2 separate regions of the Homo sapiens genome follow, and region 2 is linked to region 1. The links come from fine-mapping of genetic effects on gene expression. Tissue or cell type: whole blood. Region 1 holds a variant in brackets; the other region holds the start of a gene. All regions are shown on one strand. Distances are from middle to middle.

The links. PIP is the estimated chance that this variant, and not a neighbour inherited with it, causes the effect.
Region 2: it holds the start of TG, and the variant in region 1 is the best candidate, but not a certain one, in a credible set for the expression of TG in whole blood (TOPMed, PIP 0.62).

Annotation. Positions count from the first base shown.
Region 1 is chr8:132,826,204-132,831,731 of GRCh38, forward strand. The region is part of intron 14 of PHF20L1 (PHD finger protein 20 like 1); the gene reads left to right. Among named protein-coding and RNA genes, the nearest start is that of TG, 38 kb to the right of the region's middle. The variant T/C (reference allele first, on the strand shown) is at 3,188.
Region 2 is chr8:132,864,502-132,869,501 of GRCh38, forward strand. TG (thyroglobulin) reads left to right here and starts at 2,457. Exons shown (of 48, transcript NM_003235.5): 1 at 2,457-2,566; 2 at 3,614-3,722. The coding sequence starts at 2,500.

The sequences.
Region 1 (5,528 bases):
TTGTATCAGAAAATTAGATGAAACGCAATTGTTAAAACATAGTGAAGTCTGTTTCAGACGTGCTGTATTGGCACAACTAACCAGATAGGTAATAGCAGATGCTGCTGAGGAAATGAAGGCAACTACACAACTACTGTGGGAAACAGATGGGGACCAGGGAGTAAGGTGACGATGTGTGCGCCAAGTGGCCTAAAAACCCGTGAGGAAACTCACACGGTGCATCAAATATGAGAGTGTTCACAGCAGCACTGGGAGCAGCCCAGCTCTCCATCAAAAGTCATGCATTCCTTCAGTGGAATAAATAAATGAATTACAGCTACAGAATCTCAGGAACAAAATGGTAAGCTAAAAACCAAGTAACTGAAGAAAACATAATATTTCACTTATATAAAGATAAAAAAGTTTTAAAACTAAACAGTGTATTTTTAAGAGATTCAACTGTGTGTGGGAAAAGCATAAAGAAAAACTAGAGAATGATGAACAAAAATTCAAGACAGTGGTTGCCTCTAAGGTGGGGAAGGGCCATTATCAGTTCAAACTGGAAAATGGTGCAAAGGGACCTTCAAAAATGATGATACTCTCTTAAACTGTATGATCAGTACCTAAGTGTTTTGTGCTATTGATATTCTTTGTGTCATACCCATTTTTTTCATATTTATTAGATATTTAATAAAACCAGTTTTAAAAAATACAAATCCAACCGGGCAGTTTTGTGGTTGGTAATCATTGTTGGTAAATTCTTCAGATTTTAGCTCTCTCCATAGTCCAAAAATAACATTTAATTTTCCCACAGAATGTGAAATTTTCACATTCTCGAATTCTAAAGCTGCCAGAGTAAATTTGAAGATACAGGATCAAAATGGGGTTCAAAGCTTGAAACGGCTTTCCAGAGAGTCTTGAACATTTCCGGGCACTTCTGTGTGTGCCTTGCGCCTCACTCCTTTCCCTCCTGCCCACCCCCCCATCACCTCTTCATATGTAACTGTGGAATTCAAGCTAGAAATGATGTAGAGGTAGGAAACTCCGGAGTTTGGTAAACAAAAACTATTCACTGTGAACTCATTTGATTACCGAATACCCTTCTGTGAGTGGTATGTCACAATACAGAAATGAGAAGCTCAGGCTGCAAATAAAACTTCCAGATGAACTCCCACCTGACCAAAGGCTCTGAGGGGATTTGCCTAGCTTAGGTGTTCCAATGGAGACCTGCATTGTCAGTGCAGGAATGGCCAGCTATTTCAGGGTTATCTTACGGCACAGCAACAAACTGTGTTCTGTTCTGATATTTAGTAGCAGACACAGAATCTTACATACAAAATACCTGTGAAAGTGGGGAAAAAGATAACAGCAGCTGATACAAAACAAAATAAGAAGGGGCCCACACTTGGTAGCAAAATATGAGGGCTAGAGCTTAAGAGAAGGCAGGAAATTGTAACTTGAGAGAAGGAGGAGCAATTAGGATTAATAGAGGAAAAATGGCCAAAAAAACCTCACCTTAGAATTGTGACCAGCCATTAACTATGGAACCCTTTACAAAGAGCCATTAAAACGTACTTTAAATGGTATATATTTTTATTTTTTAATGAAAAAGAAAACCTTATATATTTGTTTACATTTTGAAATCAGGCTTACAAATGAAAATCTTAACTTTGTAAATAGAGTCCTAGTAAGATGCACAGAAACATTGCTGTTTATAAACAGCAGGTGTTGAGTTTGATAATCACTGTCATCTTTGTAATTAATTGTTGCATTTGAGGAGAATTTATTCTGAGCTATTTACTTTATCTTAGAAATGGCACTTTTCCCCAGATGGTTAAATTAGAAGAGTGGTCTTTAAGTGGGAAATACAGGATTTGAAGTAACTTTGAAATTTTAAAGACATCTTAATGTTAAAGAATTGACATTATTACTGTATGAGGCTTCTAGTATGTTTTTTAGTCTACAGTTAGCACCATGAGGGAGTTTCAAAATTCTTTCTTTTATTTACCACTCAACATTATTTTATATATCCTGCTGGTACTTATGTACCCAAAACTAAGCATTTTATAAATATTATTACTTCATTTAATCCTCATATTAACCCTTTACAATAGGATCTGTTATCTACATTTTACCAACAGTTAACTGAGAGAGAGTGAGAAAGAGAGCTCTCCAGCTCTCATAGCTAGCTAGTGGTGAAAAGCAGATTCATTTCAAATCCAAGCAGTCTGACTTACAAGTCTGAATTTTTAACTCTAATCACCATGCTATGTTATTAATACCTGAAATACTGTTTATCAAACTGTGTATTCTTCTCTTCAACAAGTTTTTACTTGTTTTTATTGGCATACTAAGTTCTTGTCCCTGTTATTTTAATGCAGTTATGCAAAGTAATTTAGATTAGTTGTTTTTTATTATTTTATGAGGTAGTAGGTTAAGATATGTTTTGATTAACATAATTGGTTTACAAGACATAATACTAACATTGTGTTTAATTTGTGTGTATGAGAAGTCACCATGTTGGGATTTAAGAGTGTCATCTTTGCCAGTTTTTAGCTTTGTTACTTTGAGCAAATCACTTCATCTGTCTTTCATGTGTCTGTAAATATAAGGATACTGCAGGCATACAGAGATTAAAAAGAAATAGAGTTAGAAGTGAAAAGAGAATTGAAAGCATTGCATAGTAAAAAAGATTCCTTCGAGGAGCTTGTAAGTCATTGAAGTATATGGTAAGAGAGATAAGCATACATAAATCTCTACCAGGAAGGTCTGATATTTGTGGTAAGAGTGGTACAAAATAAATATTTAAGCTAGAAAAGTTGGTATGATCAAGGAAGGGACTTTATGTAGGAGACTACTTCTGATCTAAGCCTTGAAACATAACAGACTTTTATTCATAATAGCCAGAGGGAATTGAAGTGGGGAATACAGACAGGGTGCGGAATGCCAAGTTTTACCTATTAAATATCAGCCATGTTTTATTTTAGTACAAAATTGAGATTTCTTTCATTGTTTTTACAATCAGATTCTGCTTCTACTTTTACTTTTGCTGAAAGGACAATATATAATGGAGTTGATAAGAAGGCAGCCTTGAAGGTTTAGTATAGGTATTCAAATCCTGCCCGTAACACTTACAGCTAAGCGACCTTTGACAGGTTATTTAAATTCTCTACATCCCAGTTTCCTTTCTTCTAAAATAAATGGTAAT[T/C]GATAGTTTTATTGCATAGATTTATTATTCGAATTAAATAAAGTAATCATTGTAAAGTACTTGATACAGTACCTGGCATTTAATAAATGTCCTTTCCATGTCTGGGCCTAAGTAATATGGTGTTGGGCAAACTGTGGTTATGGTGAGGCCACTGGAGTCAGAATAGCGTAGTGCTGCCCAAAGACTGCTGTAATCTGACAGCATCAGCATCATCTGGGAGTGTTTCATTCCCAGTGCACTGGAGATGAGGCCCAGGAATCTGGGGTTTAACAAGCTTGCCAGCTTGTGCACCCTTTAAATGTTGAAATACACCGATATCACTTATTTGTTAAGAGTGTAGCTTCCATAGTCAGGCTGCCTGGGTTTGAATGTTGGCTTTGCTATTGATAGTTGTATATTCTTGGGCAATTTGCTTCATCTGTCTTGCCTCAATTCTTTACTAGCAGTCCTACTTCCCTCATTAGATGCTTGTGAGGATTAAAAGAGTTAATACACATAAAGAACTGAAAATTGCATTTGGCACATAGAGAGCCCTCAATCAGTGTTGGTTGTGCCGTGGTATTTATGATGATGAGTGTAAGTTTCCCATTGCTGCTGTTGCAAATTACTGCACATCAGTGGTTTAAAAAAATATGTATTTATTATCTTAAAGTTCTGGAGGTCAGGAGTCCAAAATGGGTCTCTCTAGGTTAAAACCAAGGTATCAACAGGGCTCCATTTTTCTCTGGAGGCTCTTAGGGACAGTCTGTTTTCTTGCCTCTTCTAGTTTCCAGAGGCTTCTGCATTGCTTGGCTCTTGTCCTGCTCCCATCTTCAAAGTCAGCAGTGGTCCAGTCTTTCTCATCTTGTTTCACTCTCACGTCATCTCTTCTGCCTCCATCCTTTCACTTTTAAGGACCCTTGCCATTACATTGGGCCCACCCATATGATCCAGGATACTCTCCCTGTTGTGAGGTCAGCCGATTAGCAACCTTAATTCCACTTTTCCACATAGCTTAGCTTATTTAAAAGTTCTAGGGTTTAGGACATAGACATTTTTGGCAGACTATTCTGTCTCCCACAGCTGCCACCTTCAAATGGATACTTAGCACAGACCAATGCGTCTCTTATAAGCTCACTTTTCCACTCTCTGTCTTTCCTTTTTCCCACTCGTTTCCATCTCTCATTTCCACCTCTCATGTATTCCCTAACCTGCGTCACTTGACATCCTTTTCCTCACAGAGTTGAGAAGACAGACATCATCAGGTGGGAACTTGCTCATACTCTATCTACCACATCTGCATGCTTACATGAAAATATTCATCATCTTAGCCTCTATTAAAATGGAGGGAATGTCTGCTTTTCTTAATCTAGCATTTCTCACCACTGCCATCCCCCTTTCCCACATCTTAAGGTTCATGTAGGTAATGTGTAAGATTTCCCATCTTACAGAGCCCTCTTCTAAACTTCTGTTTCTTCTCTGGTTTCTCCACCTTGCATTTACTCTTCAGCCCCATCTCATACCCACTTTTGTTGCCTTGTTGCTCACGCATAAACCTGGAAATCAATCTTGATAATGCCGTCTTAGCTCTCGGCCTCCAGTCTATAACAGCACTCCATCTTCCTTAAAATCTTCCCCTTATTTGCCATCACCCAAGTTCTGAGCCACCAACATTTCTTTCCTGGACTACTGCTGTAGCCTCTGAACTGTCCCCCCACTTCTATGTGTGCCTTCCTGCATTCCATCCTCCATTCCACAGCTAGAGTGATCCTCTGGAAATGAAACTGTCACATCTTGCTCCTCCTCCACATAAGCATTGAATGACTTTTTATTGCATTAGGGTAAAACTTTTTAAAAAAAGCTAATCTGGCTCCTGTCACTCTAGCTTTGTTTCTCCCTTATTCACTGTGTTCCAGCCAGTCTTACAGCTTGCCAAATGTGGCATGCACTCTTCAGCTTCAGAGCCTTCCCACATGCCTGGAATCACACCCCCACCTCCTTTTTTCCTTCCCTTACTATACCCTCAACTCTCCAGTAAGCTGCATATGGCCTCTCCCCTTGCACACATCTGTGGGACTCATTACAAAACTGAGAAAAACAGAATTTTTACAGAGTTCTTCCAGGACTAGTTAATTACCTTCAGAGATTTATTACTTGAAAAATTTATTGATCAGATTATCACTGTATAATTGGTGTGCCAGACATCAGGAGAACCTCTTTACGAATTGTGGGGAAGAAAAAAGGTGAATTTCCATCTTGCATATCTTTTTTTTTTCCTCTTCAACTTTTATTAGGTTGGTACAAAAGTACCTCAATTACTTTTGCACCAACCGAATAAGTTCTGGGGTACATGTACAGGATG
Region 2 (5,000 bases), 38 kb after region 1:
TCCCCAGGGTGAATTGATCTTCCTGCCACGGCACCTCCTGAGCATCTGTTGGCTGAGTCTCCATCCCCACCCGTGAAAACAGCCTTGTGATGTGCTGTTTAATATCACAGAATGGAAACAGTGTTTTGATTCACCAGGATCCAAACACTCTTTTTGTAGAATCTACAAAGTGACATGGATGGCCATATTTTAGAGGACTGTTCCTGCAGCTGGTGGGGAAGCCCTGGTGAGGAGCAGTACAGCAGGCTGTTCTGGCTGGCTCGTTCTGAGCTGTAGGGATGTGACGGAGGCAGGAAGAGTGAGGATGCAGAGGAGGGGAGGACCAAGGAAGTAGAAATGAGCAGCAGCCTGGTAGGACCTGGAGGCTGGTAAGACTTGAGGGGAGAAGCCTAGGATGGGGCTCGGATTTACTATCACAGAGACAGCCAATGGGGTGATGTCAGGAGAAAGGTTGAGGAGTTCAGGTTGGGATATGTTGAATTTGAAATACCTGTAGGGTGTCCAGGCAGAGTGGATCTGAGCTCAAAAAAGTCTGGCTGGAGACTGAGCTAGAGAGAGATGTGGGAGTTCCAGGCATGTGTGGTCCCCAAGAAGGACGGGCAGAGCACGGGTTCTCCCCTGTTTTTAATCCCATACCCTGACACTTCAAATGACTGTTGTGTTTTACTTTCTCTAGTTTATATCAGGAACCCAACAATGATGACAGTAGCTGTTATGGACTGAATTGTGTTCTCCCCCCAAATCCATATGCTGAAGTCCTAAAACCAGGACCTCAGAATGTGACCGCATTTGAAGGTAGGGTCTTTAAAGAGGTAATTAAGTGCACAATGAGGTCACAAGGATGGGCTCTAATCCAATATGACTGGTGTACTTAAAAGAAATAAATATTAAGACACAAACACACACAGGGAAGACCAAGTGAGGATACAGGGAGGAGATGGCCATCTGCAAGCCCAGGAGAGGAGTCTCCAAAGAAACCAACAGTGCTGACACTTTGATCTTGGATTTCCAGCCTTCAGAACTATGAGAAAATAAATTTCTGTTACTTAAGCCACCCAGTCTGTGATAGTTTGTGATGACACCCATAGCAGACTAGTACAGTAGCTAACACTGGATACTTATTATGTGTCAAATACTGTTTTAAGCACTTTGCATATTTTAACACATTTAATATTCATAGCAACCCTATTTGTGGAAGGTAGTACAGTCTACGGCACGGCAGCTATATCGGCCCCTTTATTTTCCCCAGGGTTTGGAGTCTCTTCCACTTTCCAGCTTGTCCTCCTGCCCTTCACTCTACCCGGGACCATATCCTCCAGATTCTCACAGGTCCCTCCATCTCTCCTCAGGTGCCAGGCTCAGCAACCTGCCCTCATTACCTGCCAGTTCCTGACCCTATCTGTCACTAGCTCCTTACCTGGCTGGATTGGTCTTCTGAATACTTGCCATTCCCTGGCATGATGCTTTTGCAAAATAAGAAAATCAATAATAATAATAATAACTGCTAGTGTCTAATAAGCATGTGCTCTTCAATGTCTATTCTCTTACAACTACCTTAACAAATAGGGACATATTATTATTCTCCTTTTAACTTTGCTTTCCAGAGAAGGAGGCTGGGGCTCAGGGAGATGAGGTGAGTTTTTCCAGGTCTCACAGGAACAGGACTGAAGGAAGGAAGCCATGTTTGCCAGGAGAAACCAAATGGACATACAGGCTTTCTGTGGAATACACAGTTCCTGCTATCTTTTGGTTGACAAAGTCTGAGGTCCTAGGAAAGAGAGGAAAGTAATAGAAATATGAATATGAGTGTGTGTGTATTTTGCTTCCCTCACCAAAGTTTTCACAGTCTATATTAATGAGGGCACGATTTTGCCTGTTTTGTTCTCTGCCATATCCTCATTGTCTAGATTAGGTGCCTGCTACTGTGGAGCTCTAAGAGGTTGTTAGAGAAAGAATAGAAGAAAGAAAAGAAGGAAGGAAGGAAAGAAGGAAGAAAGAAAAGAAAGAGGGAAGGAAGGAAAGAAAGAAGGAAGAATGAAAGGAAAGAAGGATAGAAGGGAGAAAGGAAGGAAAGAAGAAAGAAAGGAAGAAAGGAAAGAAGGAAGGAGGAAGGAGAAGGAGAAAGGGTAGGGTGGGGAAGGAAAGAACAAAGGATTGCTTTTCCCTCACTGTGGGCTTGAGCCTGTTCCCTCCAAAGATACAGAGCTTTGGTCTTTACCCATAAAAAAGGATTTTGAAGTCACCCCACCCCGTTCTGTTCCCCCACAGTTTAGACAAGATCCTCATGCTCCACTGGCCACACGAGTGCCCTCAGGAGGAGTAGACACAGGTGGAGGGAGCTCCTTTTGACCAGCAGAGAAAACAGGATGGGGCACTGCCTCACTGAGGACCTGGGGGTGGGAAGGAAAGTGCCAACGGCAGCTCTATAAAAGCTCCCTGGCCAGGGGACCTAGGGCAAGCAGTGGTTTCTCCTCCTTCCTCCCAGGAAGGGCCAGGAAAATGGCCCTGGTCCTGGAGATCTTCACCCTGCTGGCCTCCATCTGCTGGGTGTCGGCCAATATCTTCGGTAAGTTCTGAGGCCATGGAGCCAGGCGGTGGGGAGGGAGCTCCAGTGTCAGCCAGGCTCTGCCCTGGGCCTTCGAACAGGTGCGATCTAATTTAATCTTCACAAATTCCCACATGTCAGTGATTTGCTTTTTTTTTTTCAGATGAAGAGGCAGATTTAGAGAGCCGAACTGAATTACTTGAGGTCACAGAGCTAGTGATTGATGGAGCAGAAATGGGAAATGTGGTTGATCTTCCTAATTCAATTCTAGGTCCTCCTCACCCCACCATTTTGGCAAACTTTTGGCATTGACCTTGGGTTTTTATCCCCTTAGCTATTCCAAAGTCTGTGTCATCCATAACAGGTATTTTAGAAGCAGTAGAAAAAGAAATCTACCTATGAAGTGAAATAGCCCTAAGTTCTGTCTTTGGCTCAGCCACTTACCCATATGACTTCGGGCAAAGTGCCAAGCTTCTGTTTTTTTTTTTTTTTTTTCATTTAAAAAGTAAACAAATAACACACACCTCATGATGCGGTTGTGATTTCTGGGTAGGACCCTATGTGTTACAAGAGTTCTCAATGGAAAAATAAGTCATGTACATTATTAATTAATTGGTATTTCAATGTTTATCTGGAACATGTTACATCTGCAGGGCATGGCTTGATAGATTCAAGAAGAACTTCCTTACGGTTCTCTAACTTACTCCAAATAGCCTCATGGGAATTGCGGCAGGGTGGGGGCGGGCGGGGAACGTGTAGTCCCAGCGTTGATTTTGGGATCCTTCACTTGCCAGTTACGTGACTTTGGGCAGACGACTTTCGCTGCCTGAGACTTGGTGCCTCATGAGTGACAAGGATATATTGCCTGTCACCTCTTAGGAGAATGTTGCACATTAAATGAGCTAATGTCATACTTGTAAGAAAGTGTGCTTAGCTGCCAAATTTTAAAATAGGCTGTCATAGGTAATGATGATGACCCTGGAAAAGCATCTGTGCTTATGAGAGCCCGTCTCTGTCCTGGCAGCCCAGTCCACACTCTTCTTTGATGAACCACTTTTCTTTTCCTAGAGTACCAGGTGGATGCCCAGCCCCTTCGTCCCTGTGAGCTGCAGAGGGAAACGGCCTTTCTGAAGCAAGCAGACTACGTGCCCCAGTGTGCAGAGGATGGCAGCTTCCAGTAAGGCTTATGTCAGCAGCGAACTCTCAAGGTCCAAGATGCCATAAAAAGCATCTTGTGCCTTCCCCCCTCTTCCTGAGCTCTGCCCTGCAACTCCTTTGTGCATGTGAGGCTTGGCCACTGTCATTTGGAGGTGCCTGCCTTTCAGTTCCACTGTCATTTGGAGGTGCCTGCCTTTCAGTTCCCCAAGCTGTTCAACACTGGACAATCTGACCAAGTGAACCCCAATCCATGCTTCATCCTCCCACTGCCCTCCCTTCTCTTCTTGCCATCACTTTTTCTGTGATGGCTTGAATAAACGGCACGTGTGGGGAGTGGGGCAGGTTGAGGAGAGTGTCAAATGATCTGTGCTTTGGGACCTCTCCCTCCTCCAAGTATCCTCTTGAGAAGCTGGGGTGGTGGAAGCAGAGGCTGCCTTGACTTCCTAGTCCTTAGCTGCCACCGACCCTGCCCGGACTAGCTCTCTAGGCTGCCTCTGGGCTTCTGGGTCGCTGTCTCCACATTGAGCTGCTCTCTGAAAGGGGTTTCTCCAGCTGCCCTAATGCAGACTTGGGGCCTGAGACCCTCTCTGTGGAGAGTGTGGTAATAATCTAGACAATTCTTCCCTGCAGAATAGACAGGAATCCTTTGCAATGTGCATGCATTGAAATTTCCTTGTGCTATTCCAGTCATGTTGAATCAGGGGAACTCCATTTATATAACTGCGTTCTGGGAAATGTCTGTGAAACCTCCCTCCCTGCTGCTATCTTATGTACACTCTTAATGTGCCTAACCTCCCACGAGTGTGCAGAGATGCTGCTAGAGCAGTCCCTGCTTAGATCACTGGGAATTCTGGAACAGCAAGGAAGGAGTTAAGGAGGAAGTCTCACTTTCACCAGCCTTATTTATATTCCCATTCCCAACTCTCTTGTTCTGGCCTCTTGCAGTTTCAAACCTGGCCTCTCTTCAGGAGGCTTTGCATATGCTGTTCCCTTTACCTGGAATATCTTTTACCTTCTTATACCTCTGACCATCCTGCAGGTCTCAGTTCAGTCATCATTTCTGGGGAGTCAACTCTATGGCCTGGCCTGACCCCACCCATGTGCTTCCCAATATACCCTGCTGGCCCCTGATCCCACTAACATCCCACCCCCAAGCCCCCACTCCCTATCCATACAATGTGGGCACTGCCTTTACCCTCTGCAGCCTCATAATGCCTGAGGACACTTGGTGGATGTGGCTGAAGCCCTGCACTCCAGGGTGGGTCACTTGTTTTGGGGCTGGCAGGCTGGACAGGTG